2 separate regions of the Homo sapiens genome follow, and region 2 is linked to region 1. Evidence: fine-mapped expression QTL. A gene starts in region 1. The other region holds a variant in brackets. All regions are shown on one strand. Distances are between the middles of the regions. Region 1 holds the start of TSPOAP1-AS1 (TSPOAP1, SUPT4H1 and RNF43 antisense RNA 1). Region 2 overlaps TSPOAP1 (TSPO associated protein 1).

Region 1 (9,542 bases):
CACACCCAGGGCACATACATATTCAGTAGTACACACATGCAATGATAGAAACATAGGGCGTGTCTTACACATAGAAGAGCACACACATACAGTGACATTTGCATAATAAACACGGTGGCTCCATACACATACATAGATAGAGACATGTTCATATATCATGATAAATATAGAATACATAGATACATGGTGATATATATATATAAATCAAACCATGTCATTATGCATATTTACATGACGATATGAGCATGTCATATATTGTGTAATCAATTACTACATTGTGCCATATAGTAGCATCCATATCTATATATATCATGATGTGTTGTAATTTATAAACTCATGCAATGATAGCCTCCCATGCACATAACAGCACACACATAGACACAGTGGCAAACAAACATAGATGCAATGACACAGAAACATACATACAGATACACCCAATGTGTTTTTGTTACGTTTTATTATGTGACTCATAGACACATAATAGCACACACATATATACACACAATGGCCCCTTCACATATACAGAAATAGATAATGTCTATTCTATAGATGCATACTATACACACGCATGCGCATAATGGCATGCATATATACTCTGACCTAAACAGCAACACATCATGCAGTGGCGTGCGTGTTGACCTACACACTGCTTTAGGGAAGTGAAGATGTCCACTCCTCCCCATGCACCCCCTACCTCCAGTTCCATTGGCTCTTGCCTGGGTGGAGCCCACAGTCAGGGGCTCTAGGGTTCAGTATCACCGCTGCTATTCTGTGGGGGTGCCACACGAGGGCCCCCGACCTTGGCTGAAACTGGCTTGCCTAATGAGTCCCGGGTTCAGAGTGGAGAGGGGCTGCCTCTCGGGGCTTCTCCCAACACCCCTGGCTCTGGGGACTCTGTCTAGACCCCTGCCACTGCATATAGACTGACTCCTGGCTGAGGGGATTCTCACGTCCTTGTCCCCCAAATTATTTAGCAACAAGATCTAAGGCTAGACAGAAGATGAACTTCCAGGCAATTCGGGACAAAGCCAACCCAACAGGCCATGTGGGCTTCCCTGGTGGCCTGGGACAGCCAGGTTGCCCCCCAAGTGCAATCTGCCAGGAGGAAGCAGAAGGAATTCTCCGTCTATTTCTACCTGTCTCTTTGCTTGTCTTCCCGGTTTCTTTCTCTTGGTTTCTGTCTCTCTCTTTGTTTCATCTCAAGTCCCATCTTTTCTAGTTCTGCCCTTCTCTGTGGCTGGATCTCTGTCATACCCTCCCCCGTTCTGTCTCTATCAGTCTCACCCGATGTAGGGAGGACCATCTGCACCCCACTCGCCTCTGTACTCCGGAAGGTGTGAGAATGTGTGAAGATGAGGGTGGGAGGCCACATGTGGGAGCCCTGGGCTGACATGCCGTGAGAAACCTGCTCTTCCTTCTGTCCCCGACCCTGTCAGCCGGTTCAGCCCACCAGTCCAGCGCCATCACCATGGAAACCAGCAGCCGACTTCCTATTGGTGGGTGGGAGGGGAGGAGGAGGAGGAGGAGGGGAGGGCTGGCTCTTCCCGGCTCACCCCCCCACCCAATTCTGAGGCTCAGCCCTCCTCGGAGCCCACCATCTCGAGGCTCCTGGACTGTAAGGGACCCCTGCAGTCCCCAGAGCAGAGGCCAGCAGGGGCTGAGACTATGAGGCAAGCAGCCCATCGACCCAGGCCTCCTTAGGACCAGCCCAGCCACCCAGCAAGCGAAAGAGCAGCAGCAGAGAGCAGAGCCGGAGATAAAGGACCACAGCGGACCACTGGGGATCACCCCCAGCAGCTCCTGAAGCCTCTGGCCGGGCTGAGGGGTTGCGACAGACGGCCAGACCCACAGACACTGACAGACACACAACGACACCGATGCACACAGCTGCACGACACTGACACACTCAGATACAACCAGGGACAGCATCACATACTGCCACAGCCCTGCAATACAGACACCCACACACACACACACAAACAACTGGCAACTCTGAAATGGGCAGACAGTGACACACAGCACCACCCCCCTCAACACACAGAAGTGGGGGCACCCATCTTCCCAACACATGAGACAGCATTGACCTGCACGGACAGACCTGGAGACACACACACGCACCCTCACCCAGGCGCAGCTGTCGGTGGCCTCTGCACATCCTCCCTACCCCCACAGGGACACCCTCGCTCCTCCACATACTCGCGCACACACACAGCTACCAGCAAACATAGCTCACATACCCCTGGCTCCAGCTCCAGCAGCCCTGGCGCCTTCTGCAGCCTCCTTTGTGGGTGGGGAAGAGCTCAGCCAACCTTGGATGGAGCGTCGGTGAAGCAAGAGCTCAGAGGGGAGAGGGGCTGGCCTGGCATGACCCTCGCCAGTCCCCCCACCTGGCTGGGTGATGTCCCCCGGCCCGGGTTCTGGGGCCCCTTGGCAGTACCATGGAGCAACTGACAACCCTCCCACGGCCTGGGGACCCTGGAGCCATGGAGCCATGGGCACTGCCCACCTGGCATAGCTGGACTCCAGGTCGAGGGGGTGAACCTAGCAGTGCAGCCCCAAGCATCGCTGATACTCCTCCGGCAGCTCTGCAGCTTCAAGAACTGAGGTCTGAGGAGAGTTCCAAGCCCAAAGGAGACGGGAGCTCCAGGCCCGTGGGGGGAACTGACCCTGAAGGAGCAGAGGCTTGTCTGCCCAGCCTGGGCCAGCAAGCATCCAGCTCTGGACCCGCCTGCCAGAGGCCAGAGGATGAGGAAGTGGAGGCTTTCCTGAAGGTAAGGGATCTGTGGAGGGCTGGGGTCTGCAAGGTGGGGGTCTCTCACCATGTCCTCCAGCCTGGCCAGGAGGTGAGGCGAGGTATGCATCCCCAATGCCCACCTGTCCTCTCTTGGCCTGTCTGTGGGTCCATCTCTGTGGCTATCTGTCCTCTCTTCATCGAGCAGAAATCTGAGGGGCTCCATTTCTTTCGTCATTTGTCTGTCCTTCTGACCCTCTTTGCCTGTCTGTCTAGATCTGGCCCTGCTGCTGCCCCGTCCCTCTCTGTGCCTCCTCCTGACAGTGTGTCTGTCTGTGTCTCTTCTTCCATGAGTCTGTCTGTCCTTAGGGGCTGGGGGATACAGGGGGAGTGTGGAGGTGCACAGAGAATCAGTGCAGAGGAAGTAGATTGAGGGGAGGGGGCTTGGTGCTGGGCTGAGGCAGGGTTGGGGTGGGTGTGAGCAGGCTCCTGTAGAAGAGGGAAGGAACAGGACTTTGGGGGAGGGCAGGGGAGTCTGGAGGGATGGGAGTGGGAGCTCGAGCTCGCATGTCCCTGGAGGAGAAGATGGGTAGGAATGGGAAGGATCAGGGAGGAGCAGGAGGGTGCCAGGTTTGGGGGTGTCTATGTGGACAGGGAGGACTGGACAGTTCCTTCTCCTAGGCCTCCTCTGCTCCTCTCTGAAGGCCTGGGACATAGGGGAAACCGTTTCATCTCCATGTCTCCTTGGACCATGGATGGTGGATGCTTCCACAGGGAAGGCTCTGGCTGGGTGACGTGGGTTTCTGAGGTGCTGTCCTCGGTCCTTTCCCATGCCAGGCCAAGCTGAATATGAGCTTTGGGGACAGGCCCAATCTGGAGCTGCTGAGGGCCCTGGGGGAGCTGCGGCAGCGCTGTGCCATCCTTAAGGAGGAAAACCAGATGCTGGTGAGGCTTGGAGACTGGGGTGCTGCGTTCTGGCTGGAGCCAGGCCCTCTGCCTCAGTGCCCTCCTCACCCCATGAACATCTTTCCAAGTGGGGGCTCAATGGAGGTGACAAAATCCTGAGACCCAGAGAGGGTGAACCCCTGCCTAGAGTTGCCAAGGACCCCACTGTGAGCCTAGGGCTCTAGCCCAAGACTTGGGCTGTTAGGACTGGGTCTGTGGGGTGCTCCCTACATGCCCCAATTCTGCCTGACCCCTTGTCAGAGGAAGAGCAGCTTCCCTGAGACAGAAGAGAAGGTGCGGAGGCTGAAGAGGAAGAACGCCGAGCTGGCGGTCATTGCCAAGCGCCTGGAGGAGAGGGCCCGAAAGCTGCAGGAAACGAACCTGAGGGTGGTGAGGAAAGGAGGCTGCTGGGCGGAGGCTGGGTGACCAAGGAAGAGGGGAGCCAGGGCTGGGCCTGAGGGCTGTCTGAAGCTTGGGAGTCACGGTCTCAGCTCAGCACCTAGGAAAGCAAGAATCTAGGGGCTAAGGTGCAGGAAGGGCAGAGGCTGGCCAGGCAAGGAGGCCAAAGGTTTCTGGAGCTGCAGGGGGCAGAGAAGAGCTGGATGGGGAGGTTCCTGAGCAGGCAGGGAGCAGGATTCTGGATTACCACGTGCTGGTGCTGGCGGCAGCCTTCTGCTGAGCTCATCTCAGGGTATAGAGCTGGAGTGGGGGCAGGGATGAGACCCATCACAGTGGCAGCCCCAAATTAGCAGCATCCTTTGATCCTAAACTCAGATGTAGAGTTAATCCTTTCCAACTGCTGGGATGGGGTAGAGTGAGGCTGCTGGTTTTCTGAGACCCCAGTCAAGGTGGAAGCAGGTGGCTACCCCCCTAGGTTTTCATGCTAACTCCTCCTTTGGGAGGAGATGAGGAGTGGGAGAAGTGCCCCAGCCCTCAGGTGACCATTGGCCTTACCCCTCCTCTGGCTAGGTGAGTGCCCCCTTGCCCCGGCCGGGGACCAGCTTGGAGTTGTGTCGGAAGGCCCTAGCCCGCCAGCGAGCCCGGGACCTCAGTGAGACAGCCAGTGCACTGCTGGCCAAGGACAAGCAGATTGCTGCCTTGCAGCGGGAGTGCAGGGAGCTGCAGGCCAGGCTCACTCTGGTGGGCAAGGTGCGAGGAGGCCCTGGTCACCTCTTCCAGCTCAGCCCTGCACAGGGCCATCTGCCTGTTGTGGGATGCAGACAAGATGTTAATGAGACGCAAATGAAAGGGAGGGTGGAGGTTGCTGGGAGTAGGTTCCCCTGGCAACGGCCCAGGTGGGAGAGGGGAGAAGGGGGTGGAGCCATGAGTCCCAGACCTGGGCATTTCTGTGCTCCAGGCTTGAGGCTGTTTGCCGGTGGGTCTGGCTGTATGCATCCACACATCCCCTGTGTGAAGGGATGTTCACAAGGTATTTAGCACAGTGCTGGGCACATTGAGAGCACCCAAGAAATAAGTTACTGAGAATGACCGCATAGGGGCTCGCGGGAGCATGTGGCCACATACGCATGCACATGTAACCAGGCATGTACCCATGGGAGGGTGTGCACAGTCTCGCGCATCGGAGCCCCTCCAGCAAGGCGAAGGGCTCTGCAGGGGATGGCATGGGGCGGGCAAGGATTAGGCCTGAGTCCCCTCCCTGTCCCTGTCCCCCAACCTCAGGAGGGTCCCCAGTGGCTCCACGTGCGGGACTTCGATCGGCTGCTGCGCGAGTCCCAGCGGGAGGTGCTGCGGCTGCAGAGGCAGATCGCGCTGCGCAACCAGCGGGAGACGCTCCCGCTCCCGCCGTCCTGGCCCCCGGGCCCTGCTCTCCAGGCCAGAGCAGGGGCGCCTGCTCCCGGGGCCCCGGGAGAGGTGAGCGCCGGCGCAAGGGCAGGTGTGTGGGTGCGTGCAGATGGGTGGGGGGAACGACCACCGGGATCTCCCCTGCACCGTGCTCAGAACCCCAAGGACTCAGTGGTGGTGTGCGCACTCCCAGGGGCTGGGGAGCTTTCCCGTCCTGGGCAGGGTCCACCTCCAAGCCTCCCGTGCTCGTACCTGCGCCGTGCCCTCCCCTGGGGGCTCCAGGGTTCCGCCCTCCATAGGCCTGCGCCCAGCGGGGCCTGGCCGGCCGCCCCTGCCGCGCTGCCAGTGGTACGGCCCGGCCGCAAATCCCTGGTTGTCCTGGCAGCCGCCCGGGGCCCAGCCCGCGCCGCCTCCTCCCGCCGCCGCCGTAGAGCGGGGACGCCCCCGTCAGCGCCCGCCTGGCTGGCCAGGCCTGGCCCCAGCTACCCGGGGGCGGCGGTGCGTCCGCCCCGGCTCCAGGTACAGGCAACCCTCACTGAGCGGGGGGCTTAGGCAGCCCCTGTCTCGAGGGCCAGGGACCCGCTTAGGACCCCCAGAACTTAAGGGTCTGGCTTCTCGCCATCATCCTAGGTAGGCAGCAAGTAGGTCCTCCTCCTTCTGGGAAGAGGGCTGGGAGGAGAGACCAGGCAGTGATCTGATAGTGACCAAGACCTCCGGGTGGGGGGAGGCTTCTTGCTCAGATTTTGTCTCCCTGGCTGGCCCTGGAAGGGAGATGCACCCTCCCATCAAGACCTGTCCTCCCCCAAAGTTTGCACGGATAATCGGAAGGTGTGGTAGGGTGGGCTTGGGGGAAGCCAGGAGAAGGGTCTGGCTGGACTTGCGCTGCTCTAGGCCAAGCCCAGATTTGGATGATACAGAACCCCTATCTTGGGGAACACCACATCCCCGGGGGCCCAGGCAGCCTCCTAGTTCTCTGCCAGTCGCTGAAGGACACCCAGGACAGTTATTGAGTGCAGAGCAGGGCTGCTGCTGGAAGCTAAAAAGGGAAAGCTTTGGCCTGGATAAAGGACCCATCTCCCAGGGCACACGTGGGTCCCAGGATCTCAAAGCACTTATGGCTCCAGGACACAGGGGTGCAGCCTTTGTACTTACACATCAGCTGGAGACAATGGGAGGTGGGTGGGCAGACAGTACCCCTCTTTGCTCTTGCTAGGCAGGGATCTCTTGCTGGCTGAATGATGGGGTGGGAACCTGCTCTGGGCAGGCTGGGCTGGGGCAGGCTGCCCTGGGGCCCTGTTCTCAGGTGCCAGCCCCTTGCCCCTGGGCATTTCCAGGCCACGCCCCAGGAGGATGCGGACAACCTACCCGTGATTCTAGGGGAGCCAGAGAAAGAGCAGAGGGTGCAGCAGCTGGTAAGTCCTAGGTCAAGGGCTGGAGGCAGCCTGCTGTGGGCAGATGTACCTTCCCTCATGAGGAGCACTTGGTTCTGACCCCTCAGGAATCGGAGCTCAGCAAGAAGCGGAAGAAATGCGAGAGCCTGGAGCAGGAAGCCCGGAAAAAGCAGAGGCGATGTGAGGAGCTGGTGAGCTCTTGAGGGCAACCCAGAGGCCAGCTCCTCCCTTCACCCCGGCCAGCCAGGTGGTGGGCTCCCTCTCAGCTCTGCTCCCACCCCTGCTGCCCTCAAGAACACATTTTCCCTCCTGCTCCTTTCCTTTCCTGGCTGGTGCAGGTTCCAGCAGGGGAGGAAGGCCTTGCCTGGGAGGAGGGCAGGGTCCTCTGTGTGGGGAGAGGGGGAATGTGGGTGCTGGGCTCCCTCCTGAGAGCTCCTCTGCCCGCTCAGGAACTGCAGCTGAGACAAGCGCAGAATGAGAATGCCCGCCTGGTGGAGGAGAACTCCCGGCTCAGTGGGAGAGCCACAGAGAAGGAGCAGGTACCACTTCCGCCCAGGTGCTGTGGAGACCTGTGCTCCCACCACTGCCCCGGTCCCCAGCCAAGGGGCTTTCTCCTCCACCCCTGAGCAGGGGTAGGGTACTGTTCCCCCTGTGAGGGTGCTGGTGGGTCAAGGCTCACCCACCCAACTCCCTGTCACTGCCCCCTCGCCAGGTGGAGTGGGAGAATGCGGAGCTGAGGGGCCAGCTCCTGGGGGTGACACAGGAGAGGGACTCAGCCCTTCGCAAGAGCCAGGGCCTGCAGAGCAAGCTGGAGAGCCTGGAGCAAGTGCTGAAGGTGAGGAGATGGTGCAGGTGGGAGAGGGTGCTGGGCCCTGGCATGGGGAGCAAGTGGGACAGCAGAATATTCTTAGTGAGGGGCACTAGCTCTGAGGCCTGGGCCTGGAGCTGCTCCAGGCTCAGTTTCCTTTGTAATAGAGGAATCTGGAGCAAATGGTGTTTGAGGCTTCCTCATCTTAGATCTTCTCTAGAAATGGCCAAGTAGGGGCTCTGGCCTTGACTCAGATCTTGTGTTTCAGCACATGCGGGAGGTGGCCCAGCGGCGGCAGCAGCTGGAGGTGGAGCATGAACAGGCTCGGCTCAGCCTACGGGAGAAGCAGGAGGAGGTCCGGAGACTGCAGCAGGTGGGGCGGCAGTGAGGGAAGCTGGCAGGCTGCTGGACACCAGCTTTGCCACTCACTCATTCCACAAGCATTTACTGTGTGCCCGGCACTGTGCTAGGCGTCGGGGAGACTGTGGGGAACAAAGACCAGGTCCCTGAGCAGTCAGCAAATTAGCATCCAGGAGTGAGCTGATTTCAGACACTGATGAGCACAGTGGTGGAGAAGAACAGGGTGATGTGACAAAGTGACTGGGATGGGGTGAGGAGCCACTTTAGAGGTCATCAGGGAAGGCCTCCCTGAGGAGGTGACAATTGACCTTGCCAGCCAGGAGGTGTAGACATGCACATGCTCTGTGGCAGGGAAGAGCTGAAGAAGCCTGAGACCAATGTGGCTAGAATACAGCAAGGGATGGGCAGCGTGGTGGGAGTAGACAAGAACCCGATCCTGTCGGGCCTTAACGGCCATGGGAAGAGTTTGGGTATTTTGCTCTGTGAGTAGATAGAAGCTCCTGAAAGATCCTAAGTGGGGGAGTGACATGATCTGAGTCATAATTTTACAGGATCACATGGCTGGTATTATGGAGGGTGGACTGTGGGAGCAGGCGTGGAGCAGGGCCTGGGCGGTGGCCTGGGAGGGAGATGGTGGCTGTCTGGACAGAGATGCATGCAGTGGAACGGGAGACAAGTGCCTGGGTTTGAGTTATGTTTTAGAGATAGAACTGACAAGGTTCTGGCCGGGCATGGTGGCTCATGCCTGTCATCCCAGCACTTTGGGAGGCCAAGGTGGGTGGATCAGTTGAGGTCAGGAGTTCGAGGCCAGCCTGGCCAATATGGTGAATCCCCGTCTCTACCAAAAATACAAAAATTAACCTGACATGGTGGCGGGCCCCTGTAGTCCCAGCTACTCAGGAGGCTGAGGCAGGAGAATTGTTTGAACCCGGGAGGCAGAGCTTGCAGTGAGCTGAGATCGTACCATTGCACTCCAGCCTGGGCGACAGAGCGAGACTCCATCTCAAAAAAAAAAAAAAAGAATTGACAAGGATCCCCGTGGGATTCCAGTTGAATCCCTTCTCTGACAGCCATTTGCTGTATAAACCTTGGTGGAGGGTGGGGCTCTTCATACTCCGTGAGGTGAAGGATGAAGGGGCAGCAGATCTGAGAGGTAGGTCATCCCGAGTGCTGAGTTCCATTTGGGCCATGTCTGAGCTGCGCGTTAAACATTCAAGGGGAGCTGTCCACAGGCACTTGGATACATGAGCCTGGGGTTATGGGTAAGTTGGTCTTGGAGATATTTGGAGCCACCAGTGTGTTTAGTTGTATGAGTAGATGGGAGCCCTAGGAAGAGAGTAGACAATATAAACTGGGCCCAGCACTGGGTCCAGGGTAACCCTAACATTCAAAATGGGGGACAGGGAGCAGGCAAAAGAGGCTGAGAAGGAGCATCCAGAGAGGTAGGGGGGAAACTGGGAGGATGGTTGCTCAGGAAAGAGGGGAGCTGACTCAGCCACGCTTC
Region 2 (9,542 bases), 12 kb after region 1:
ACCTCTATTTAGTAAGTTTCTCTCTAAATATTTCCCTTTTTGTAAGGAAGCCCGGCTATGGAGGGCCTGGTCCCCATATCCAAGAAGCACCACCCTATCTCCTGGTCCCTCCTCAGGCCACAGACCCCAAGCCCACGTGCCATCTTCTCTTTAGACCTTGACCTCCCGCCGGGCTCCCCTGGGCGCTGCACCCCAAAGTCTTCCGAGCCTGCCCCTGCCACTCTCACTGGGGTCCCTCGAAGGACAGCCAAGAAGGCAGAGTCTCTCTCCAACTCCTCCCACTCCGAGTCCATCCACAACAGCCCCAAGTCATGCCCTACACCTGAGGTAATTGCTGGGGTGGGGCCTGAAGTTCTGGCTTTGGCTTGGGGAAGGGTGCAGGGCAGGTGGCCCTGACCTCTTCTGGGGTCCCCAGGAGTTGGGTGGCAACTTCTGGGGTCCCAAGTTGGGAGGTGGGAGGCCTGTGGATTCCTCCTGTGGGCGAGGCGCTCAGGTGGAGCCCTTCCTGCCCTCCACTGCCTGCCTGCAAGCCCCACCTGGGGCCACCCCAGCCCACCCCTGGGAGGCCCAGGGAGGCTCTGGAGTGCTGGGCTGGATGGAGGAGACACTTGGGCACCAGGATCTGCATAATGAGACTGTTCCTAAGAGCATCTGTAGTGAAAGCAGGTGGTTGTATGAGAAAGCACATGTTCCAGGATTCAAATCCCAGCTTTGCCTTAGGCAAGTCACTGAGCCTTTCTGGGCTTCTGTTTCCTTATCTGAATCTTGGAGCTAATAAAACCTGCCTTCTAAGGTTGTTGTGAGAGTTAAATGAATACGGAACCTGCCTGTCTCAGTGTGGGGCACACAGGATGTGTGCTCAACACGGGGCAGCTGTTATTATTACTAAGCTCCTGGGCATCACTCATAGCTCTGGTCGTCAACTCATCCTTCTTTCTACCCACAAACCCCAGAAGGTGGAGGAGGCAGGTCAGAAGCAGCTCTGAGAGCCAAACATTCAGAAAGTGGTAGAACGAAGCCCTGGGCCTCTATTGCCCCCTCGTGGGATAGAAGGATGGTGCCAGCTTTGGATGTGGTTGTGGAGAGGTTGCCCACTTGGTCCCCTTCTCCCAGGCATTGGCAGAGAAGAGAAGACAGCCTGTTCCCCAGGCTACCCCAGCAACCTCAACAAGGGTCAGAGAATTGGGGTGCCCTGAGGTTGCGGTGCCCTGGGCTGTGGGCCGGGCAAGTAGACGGGAAGTTCTGAGTTCCAGAGCTGAACAGCAGACACACTGTCACTCGGCTAGAAGCAGGGACCCCTCAAGCTCCTTCTGCCTCCTTTCTGCCTCCTTGCTTCCAGCGATTTACAGTTGGGGTGCTTTGCTGAGGGGTTTCTTTTTTCTTTGTTTTTGTTTGTTTGTTTGTTTGTTTTTAGACAGGGCCTCGCTCTATCCCCCAGGCTGCAGTGCAGTGGCGCAATCTCAGCTCACTGCAACCTCTGCCTCCTGGGCTCAAGCAATCCTCCTACCTCCGCCTCCCAAGTAGCTGGGACCACAGGCATGCACCACCACACCCAGCTAATTTTTGTATTTTTAGTAGAGATGGGGTTTTGTTATGCTTCTCACGCTGGTCTCAAACTCCTGGCTCAAGCAATCTGCCCTCCTCAGCCTCTCAAAGTGCTGGAATTATAGGCGCGAGCCACTGCACCTGGCAACTTTGCTGAGTTTTTACCTTAAGGAACCAAACCAAACTTCTGTTGACACCCACTCCCCACACCAGCATGGCCTGGGCCCCTCTGAGATGAGGGAAGTGGCTTTATTTCCTGGCGGGTGCAGTAGAGGCTCAGGGAGGGGTCTGGGTTATCCCCACTGCCCCTGCCCAGGGCAGCTGGGCTCTGCCAGGACCTGCTCTCTCAGGCACTAATTTAGAGAGCATCAGGGGGTCCTTGCCACTGCTCCTGTGCAGCATGTATGTGCTCATTTTCCCTCCTTAAAGCAATAGGTCCTCTGGCTCAGCCTGGAAACCTGCCTGCTTGGCGCTTGGCCCCAGGCCCTGAAGAGAAACCAGCCCTTTCTGTTTGCCCCCAGGTGGACACAGCCAGTGAGGTAGAGGAGCTGGAGGCAGACAGTGTCTCCCTGCTCCCAGCTGCGCCAGAGGGCAGCCGGGGAGGAGCCAGGATCCAGGTCTTCCTAGCACGTTATAGGTGGGTCCCTCACCCTCACTGCCCCCTAGCCCAGCCCCAGCATTTGGGGTATAGGAGGGGGCCGGGTGGAGCTGGAGACCTCTGGAAGTGGTGGGGGCAGTACAGGACACAATGGACCTATTCTAATAACCTAGTTGGGCCAAGGTGGGTGCAGTGAGGGCTCAGCTTTGCTGGTGGTGGACAACCACAACCAAGTCTCCGTAAAGGCTCAGTGCAGTGGGAGAGAGAAGACAGGACATGGAAGTGGAGTGTAGGTCACTCTCCTCCTCCTCCTCTGTGCCTCCCCTAACAGCTACAACCCCTTTGAGGGTCCCAATGAGAATCCAGAAGCAGAGCTTCCGCTGACAGCTGGCGAGTACATCTACATCTATGGCAACATGGATGAGGATGGCTTTTTTGAAGGTAGGAATGTAGTGGGGGGTCATTCTGTCCATTCCCCTGCCTTTGAGCCCATGTTCCCAAAGACGGATATCCATCCATCCATCCATCCATTCATCCATCCATCCATCCATCCATCCATCCATCCATCCATCCCCTCTGCCCAGCGTGCTCAGCCCACCTTAACTTTTTGGTCTCAGCTAAAAGGCATACAGAGACCTAGTAGCCACTGGGGAAAGAGAAAGAAGGGAGTCTGGCTCCAAGCAGGACAGGACAGCATAGTCCAGATGGTGGAGAGAGTGTCACAGGAGATTTTGGCTAGATTCATTTTTGTGTGGATAGTCAGGGCGTGGCAGTGTTTCACAGTAGTGACACCTGAGGTCAGGTATGCAGCACAGATTTGATGCTGGACTCCAGTCAGGTATGCGAAGGAGGAATCAGGGTAAAGATCCCAGGGGAAGGTGTTCTCAAGCGGTTAGCAGCTGTCAGGGCCCAGGCAGGGTGTCTGCTTCAGGGAGGTTCTGCAGCTCCTGTGGGGAGTCAGAGGGCTGATCAGGCAACTCAAGGCAGATGCCTCATTGAGACTGGGCACTATGGGCCTGCGGAAGACATGGCCTTGGGAGACTCTCTCAGGGTGGCTCTGGCCTGGGTACCACCAGGCTGAGTCCATCAGCAGCAGAGAGGATGGCACTGTGTAGAGAATTGGATGGGGCATGGACAGGGCAGGGCGAGAGCCGCAGCTGTGTGTAGAGATTTAGGAACAGGCTTAGCTCTGAATCTGTAACCCTGGAAGCTTGGGAGCCTGCTCAGTTTCTTTTCCCTGGGTCCTCTGCCTGTTACTTGAGGAGCTGCTGAGACCCATGGTACCTGGCTTTGTGGCCTAAACAGTTAAACTCCCTACAGGGGTAGATTATGAAGATCAGAATTAAAAAGCTTTCAGGAAAATAATACTTTATAAATGAAGAAAAAAAAACCCCACCCAAATCAAAAACCAAAACCCAAACACTTTATTTTTGGAGGGGGCAGCAAAGGCATAAGTATTAACTAACCACAAATGACTAGAATTTGAACTCTGCGATCTGGGATAAATTGGGATAGATGTAAATGCCACCGGGGGCAAGATGCCGTATTCCCTGTCCAACCTTAGCTAAAGGACTGCTTCGTCTATGTCTGGGCCACCTAGGCTGTTCTCAGCTGCATGGGCTTCTGGAGCATGTGCCTGACTCCGGCCCAGGCTCCAGCTTCAGCCCTGCAGGCTGGAGATCCTCTTAGTGTGAAGACTCCTGCCTTTGTCTCCCACTCCACAGTGCTGGTGCTTATGATCGTTTCCTAGGGCTGCAGGAGCAATTACCATAGAGTGGCTTGAAACAATAGACATTTATTCTCTCACTGGCCTCTTCTGGAGGCCAGAAGTCTGAAATCAAAGTATTGGCAGAACTGCATCCCCTTGGGGGCTCTAGGGGAGGTTCCGTTCCTTGTCTCTTTTAGCTTACGGTGGCTCCAGTTGTTCCTTGGCTTATGGCCACCTCACTCCAGTCTCTATCTGTGGTCACCATTGCCTCCTCCTCTTAGTGTTTCTCCTCTGCATGTCTCTTATAAAAACACTTGTCATTAGATTTAGGACCCACCCGGATAATCTAGGATGATCTCATCTCAAGATCCTTAACTTAATTACATCTGCAAAGACGCTTTTTCCAAATAAGGTCATGTTCACAAGTTCTGGGGATTAGAACATGGACATGTTTTTGGGCGGCCACCATTCAACCCTCTACAGTGCTTATTATATCAGTGAATTTATTGACAGTCCCTCTTGTTTCTTCAAGTTCCTTACTTTTTTTTTGCCTAGCATAGGCAGAGAGAGAGAGGGTGGAGGTGAGGGGCACAGATGACTGTTGGGGGAAACTCCAGGCCCCCCTGCAGCTCAGACCTGCCTACACTCACCCCTCTCCCCTAAGCCCTGGCTCGTGCTCCCCCTTCCTCTCAATAAAGCACACCAGCTACCAGCTGTCTGTTTCCTGAGACCTTTTTTTCTTCTTTAAATTGACCGTGACATTACATGCTGGGTGCCCAGCTTCCTTGACATCCCTCAATCAAACAACAGCAAATGTTTTAAAATACTCTCTTGTCAAGTCTTCAGGAGAACTGATGCAGGTAACAAAACATAACCATTGGTGGTTGCCTGGATTGACTGCTGTCAATCATGCTGCTAGACACAGGCCTGCTGGGGCTCCTGATCCTTCTAGAACTTACAAGTGACTATTTCACTAGCACTTACTTCATTTGTCTCTAAAGATTCCTCCTTTACCCTGCTGAGTTGGTTGTCTCTCTCTCCCTCTGTGGATGTCTGCTGTTCACAAAGAGAAGTTGAGGGGCACCCTGGCCCCTATTCCTCAGGCCCAGGTAAAACCCAACCAGCAGAATTTTTTTTTTTTTTTTTTT[G/TG]ATACAGCATCTTGCTCTGTCGCCCAGGCTGGAGTGCAGTGGCGCGATTATGACTTCTAGCTTCTGCCTCCCGGGCTCAAGCAATCCTTCCACCTCAGGCTCCTGAGTAGCTGCAACTGCAGGCGTGCAACCACTCCCAGCTAATTTTTGCATTTTTTGTAGAGATTGGGTTTTGCCATGTTGCCCAGATTGGTCACAAACTCCTGGGCTCAAGCGATCTGCCTGCCTCATCCTCCTGAAGTGCTGGGATTACAGGCATAAGCCACCATGCCTGGCCAGTTTTCTTATCCTGACCTGCTTATTTTTTAAAACTTTAATATGAAATTATGAAATTATTATTGCAATTTTTAACACAAAAGTTTTCAAATGTACAGAATATATTTGAATATTTATATAGCCAGCACCTAGATTCAACAATTGTTAAAACTTTGGCATATTTGCTTTATATGTAGGTTAAACATGATTTTAAAAGCATTATGATATTTTACCTTGAAATACTCAACATGCTTACTTAGAACATGATATTCTCCTCCATCCTTGCAGCTTGAGTGTCACCTGGTGGCTTATTAGAATCACAGAATCTCAGCCCCATCCAGACCCAACCGAGTTAGAATCTGCATTTTAACAAATCTGTAGGTGATTCATATGCAAGTTAAAATTGAAGAAGCACTGTCCTATAGAACCAAAATACTATTATCAGACCTATCTCTAATCCAGATCTTTACTGCTCTTGTCTTTTAAAAGAATTGACAGTTAAATGTTGATTTGAATCAAATGCTGAAGATCACCCACTAGCAGTTGCTAAAATGCATTTATTATACCGTTTTTTCTTTATCTCCTCTCTGTCTTCCCCTGCCCTGCCCCTTCCTGTCCTCCTCCTGCCAGGAGAGCTCATGGATGGCCGAAGGGGCCTGGTCCCTTCCAATTTTGTAGAGCGTGTGTCGGATGATGACCTCCTGACCTCCCTCCCTCCAGAGCTGGCCGATTTGTCCCACAGCTCAGGCCCTGAACTCAGTTTCCTGAGTGTAGGTGGGGGTGGCAGCAGTAGCGGGGGCCAAAGCAGTGTGGGAAGGAGCCAGCCCAGACCTGAGGAGGAGGATGCAGGGGACGAGCTCAGTCTGAGCCCATCACCGGAGGGCCTGGGCGAGCCTCCTGCCGTGCCTTACCCCCGCCGTCTGGTGGTCCTCAAGCAGCTGGCCCACAGCGTGGTGCTGGCCTGGGAGCCGCCTCCTGAGCAAGTGGAGCTACACGGCTTCCATATCTGTGTGAATGGGGAGCTGCGACAGGCCCTGGGGCCTGGGGCGCCACCCAAGGCCGTGCTGGAGAACCTGGACCTGTGGGCCGGGCCCCTTCACATTTCTGTCCAGGCCCTGACTAGCCGGGGCAGCTCTGACCCACTGCGCTGTTGCTTGGCGGTGGGTGCCCGGGCCGGAGTGGTGCCCAGCCAGCTGCGGGTCCATCGGTTGACAGCCACATCTGCTGAGATCACCTGGGTGCCCGGCAATAGCAACTTGGCCCATGCCATCTACCTCAATGGGGAAGAGTGCCCACCTGCCAGCCCCAGTACCTACTGGGCCACCTTCTGCCACTTACGGCCTGGCACACCCTATCAGGCCCAAGTGGAGGCTCAGCTCCCACCCCAAGGGCCCTGGGAACCAGGCTGGGAGAGGCTGGAGCAGCGGGCTGCCACCCTGCAGTTCACCACACTCCCAGCAGGTATGTGGGCTTGGGCCCTGTTGTCCAGAACACCCAGGAGGCCAGGCCATGGGTGACGGAAGAAGGGGACCCTGATCTTATTTGCGTTATCAGGGAAATAGCAAATTGGGCAGGTATCTCTGATGGGGAGCGTCCTGCATCACTGGGTCTTGTGCCCCCCTGCCCCCAGGCCCACCTGATGCCCCTCTGGATGTGCAGATCGAGCCTGGGCCCTCCCCTGGGATCTTGATCATCAGTTGGCTCCCAGTCACCATCGATGCTGCTGGCACATCCAACGGTGTCCGGGTCACAGGCTATGCCATCTACGCTGATGGGCAGAAGGTATAGCCCTGCCCACTGTACCCTGGGAGTGGGGGTGGGTCCCTTCTTGCTATGCTCAGAGGTCTAGGCTCTCTGGCTTGGCACGGAGATGCCCAGCCCCTGGCATTTGGGTACCATGAGGCAGATGGGTTAAGAGCATGGGCTTTGGCAGCACATGACAGATTTTAGAACTGTTCCATCACTGAAGCCATATGGCCAGGAGGATGAAATGAGATAGGCCATGCAGAGGGCTTAGCACAGTACCTGGCGTAATGCTAGCTGCCACTGCTGTCAGTTAGCTGCCACTGCTGTCAGTGCATCCTCACGCTTGGCTGTCTCAGCCTCTGCTTCCCATCCTGTGCCCCCTCCACCCTGCAGATCATGGAGGTGGCCTCACCCACGGCAGGCAGTGTACTGGTGGAGTTGTCCCAGCTGCAGCTGCTGCAGGTGTGTCGTGAGGTGGTCGTGCGCACCATGTCGCCCCACGGGGAGTCGGCGGACTCCATCCCGGCTCCTATCACTCCCGCCCTGGCTCCGGCCAGCCTGCCAGCCCGAGTCTCCTGCCCCTCACCGCACCCAAGCCCAGAGGCCAGAGCGCCCCTTGCTTCAGCCTCCCCAGGGCCTGGAGACCCCAGCTCTCCTCTCCAGCACCCTGCTCCCCTTGGAACTCAAGAGCCTCCAGGAGCACCCCCTGCAAGCCCTTCCAGAGAGATGGCAAAAGGGTCCCACGAGGACCCTCCAGCACCTTGCTCCCAGGTACCCTGTCTGGGGAGAGGGGAGCAGGTGCAGGCTGGCAGAGGGACCTGGGCTTGGGTCCTTCCTCAGTGCTCTCTGTTCCAGGAGGAGGCTGGGGCAGCAGTGCTGGGCACCTCAGAGGAGAGGACAGCCAGCACATCTACCCTGGGTGAGAAGGACCCTGGCCCCGCAGCTCCCTCACTGGCCAAGCAGGAGGCCGAGTGGACTGCAGGAGAGGCCTGTCCGGCCTCCAGCTCCACCCAGGGAGCACGGGCCCAGCAGGCGCCAAATACCGAGATGTGCCAAGGAGGAGACCCAGGGTCTGGGCTGAGGCCCAGGGCTGAGGTAGGGGTTTGGGGACACACTGTGTCACTTCAGAGAATTGAGGCCTGTCTCCCTACCTTTTGCCAGCGCAAATCCAGTTGCCCTCTCTGCCTGTCCTCTGCTCTGGTCCTGCTCTCACACCTTTGGCTGTGCTATGTGTCTGTTTTTCTTCTAGGATTTCTCTGTCCCATGTGGCTCCCATCTCCCTTCTCCCACCCTGCCCCTGAGCCATGGTGTGCCTCCCCCATTTAGGACATGGCTCTTTCTCCCTCTGCCAAAGGACCCTTGTTACTGTGGCTGGGGCTGACCCTGCCTGGAACCCCCTGTGCCCCCTCACTGTCCTTATCTCTCCTGCCTTGCCTCACTTCTTGCAGAAGGAGGACACAGCAGAGCTTGGGGTTCATCTGGTGAACTCCCTCGTGGACCACGGCCGCAACTCAGACCTGTCAGACATCCAGGAGGAAGAGGAAGAGGAGGAGGAGGAGGAGGAAGAGGAGCTGGGTTCCAGGACTTGCTCCTTCCAGAAGCAGGTTGCTGGCAACAGCATCAGGGAGAATGGGGCCAAGGTAACGGGGTAGGGATGGGCTGTTGGGCCCCAGGCCTCAAACTCCGGGGCCTCCCCACTGTGTGTCAGCAGGTGCTCTGACCACCACTGAGTGCCAGAAACATTCTAGGTCTGTGGCCTGGGCCCTGTCCTAAGCAGAAGATAGGAAGTGCCCCAGGATTGGCCCCTGCCCTCCTGGAAAGAAAGGGGAAGGGGAGGAGTTCATTTCTGTACCTTCTCTCCCTCCAGCCCACCAGATACAGCGCCCTGGCCAGGGGAGGCCGGTGCCACCTAAGATCCTTGTGCTGGTAGCTTCTGGGGAGGGGATGGGGAGGCCTGCTCCTCAATGCTCCTGTCCCACAGGGGCTGGTGATGGTTCCTAGAGTGTGTTCCCTAATTCTTCCTTTGGCTCTCACTGGATATGTGTGTGAATTTGGGCCAGCCACCGTCCCTCTGGTTCTCTCCTCTCGGAGGAAGCCGTGGGAGGGCTGTGGGGTTGTCCGTAACCCCTGCCTTCGTTTGAGGGCAAAGATCGCAGCTCGCTCTCCTCTTCCCCACGCATCTCTCTTCCCTGCTGTGTTCTACTCCCACCTCCCCACCTCCACCAGTCCCAGCCCGACCCCTTTTGTGAGACTGACAGCGATGAGGAGATCTTGGAGCAGATCCTGGAGCTGCCCCTCCAGCAGTTCTGTAGCAAGAAGCTCTTTAGCATCCCGGAGGAGGAGGAAGAGGAAGAGGAGGACGAGGAGGAGGAGAAGTCAGGGGCAGGCTGTTCTTCCCGAGACCCTGGCCCGCCTGAACCTGCATTGCTGGGGCTGGGCTGTGACAGTGGTCAGCCCCGAAGACCTGGCCAGTGTCCCTTGTCTCCTGAGTCCTCCAGGGCTGGAGACTGCCTGGAAGACATGCCTGGATTAGTTGGTGGAA

The links.
Region 2: its variant is fine-mapped to the expression of TSPOAP1-AS1 in whole blood (INTERVAL, PIP above 0.99).

What each region holds. Positions count from the first base shown.
Region 1 is chr17:58,320,817-58,330,358 of GRCh38, reverse strand. It overlaps TSPOAP1-AS1 (TSPOAP1, SUPT4H1 and RNF43 antisense RNA 1), which reads right to left and starts at 4,909. Exons shown (of 5, transcript NR_038410.1): 1 at 4,631-4,909; 2 at 2,238-2,309. It overlaps TSPOAP1 (TSPO associated protein 1), which reads left to right and starts at 1,564. Exons shown (of 32, transcript NM_004758.4): 1 at 1,564-2,771; 2 at 3,569-3,676; 3 at 3,938-4,066; 4 at 4,646-4,825; 5 at 5,357-5,548; 6 at 6,814-6,891; 7 at 6,978-7,061; 8 at 7,320-7,409; 9 at 7,583-7,705; 10 at 7,947-8,051. The coding sequence starts at 2,439. RefSeq lists enhancers at 742-821, 922-1,091, 1,622-1,691, 2,562-2,721, 4,756-5,304 and silencers at 2,402-2,511, 3,122-3,181, 5,442-5,531, 5,572-5,641, 5,762-6,011.
Region 2 is chr17:58,309,065-58,318,606 of GRCh38, reverse strand. TSPOAP1 (TSPO associated protein 1) reads left to right here. Exons shown (of 32, transcript NM_004758.4): 14 at 155-327; 15 at 2,067-2,182; 16 at 2,475-2,584; 17 at 5,885-6,715; 18 at 6,885-7,036; 19 at 7,394-7,771; 20 at 7,856-8,095; 21 at 8,449-8,640; 22 at 9,227-9,542. Among named protein-coding and RNA genes, the nearest start is that of TSPOAP1-AS1, 12 kb to the left of the region's middle. RefSeq lists enhancers at 5,853-6,471, 8,373-9,072. The variant G/TG (reference allele first, on the strand shown) is at 5,000.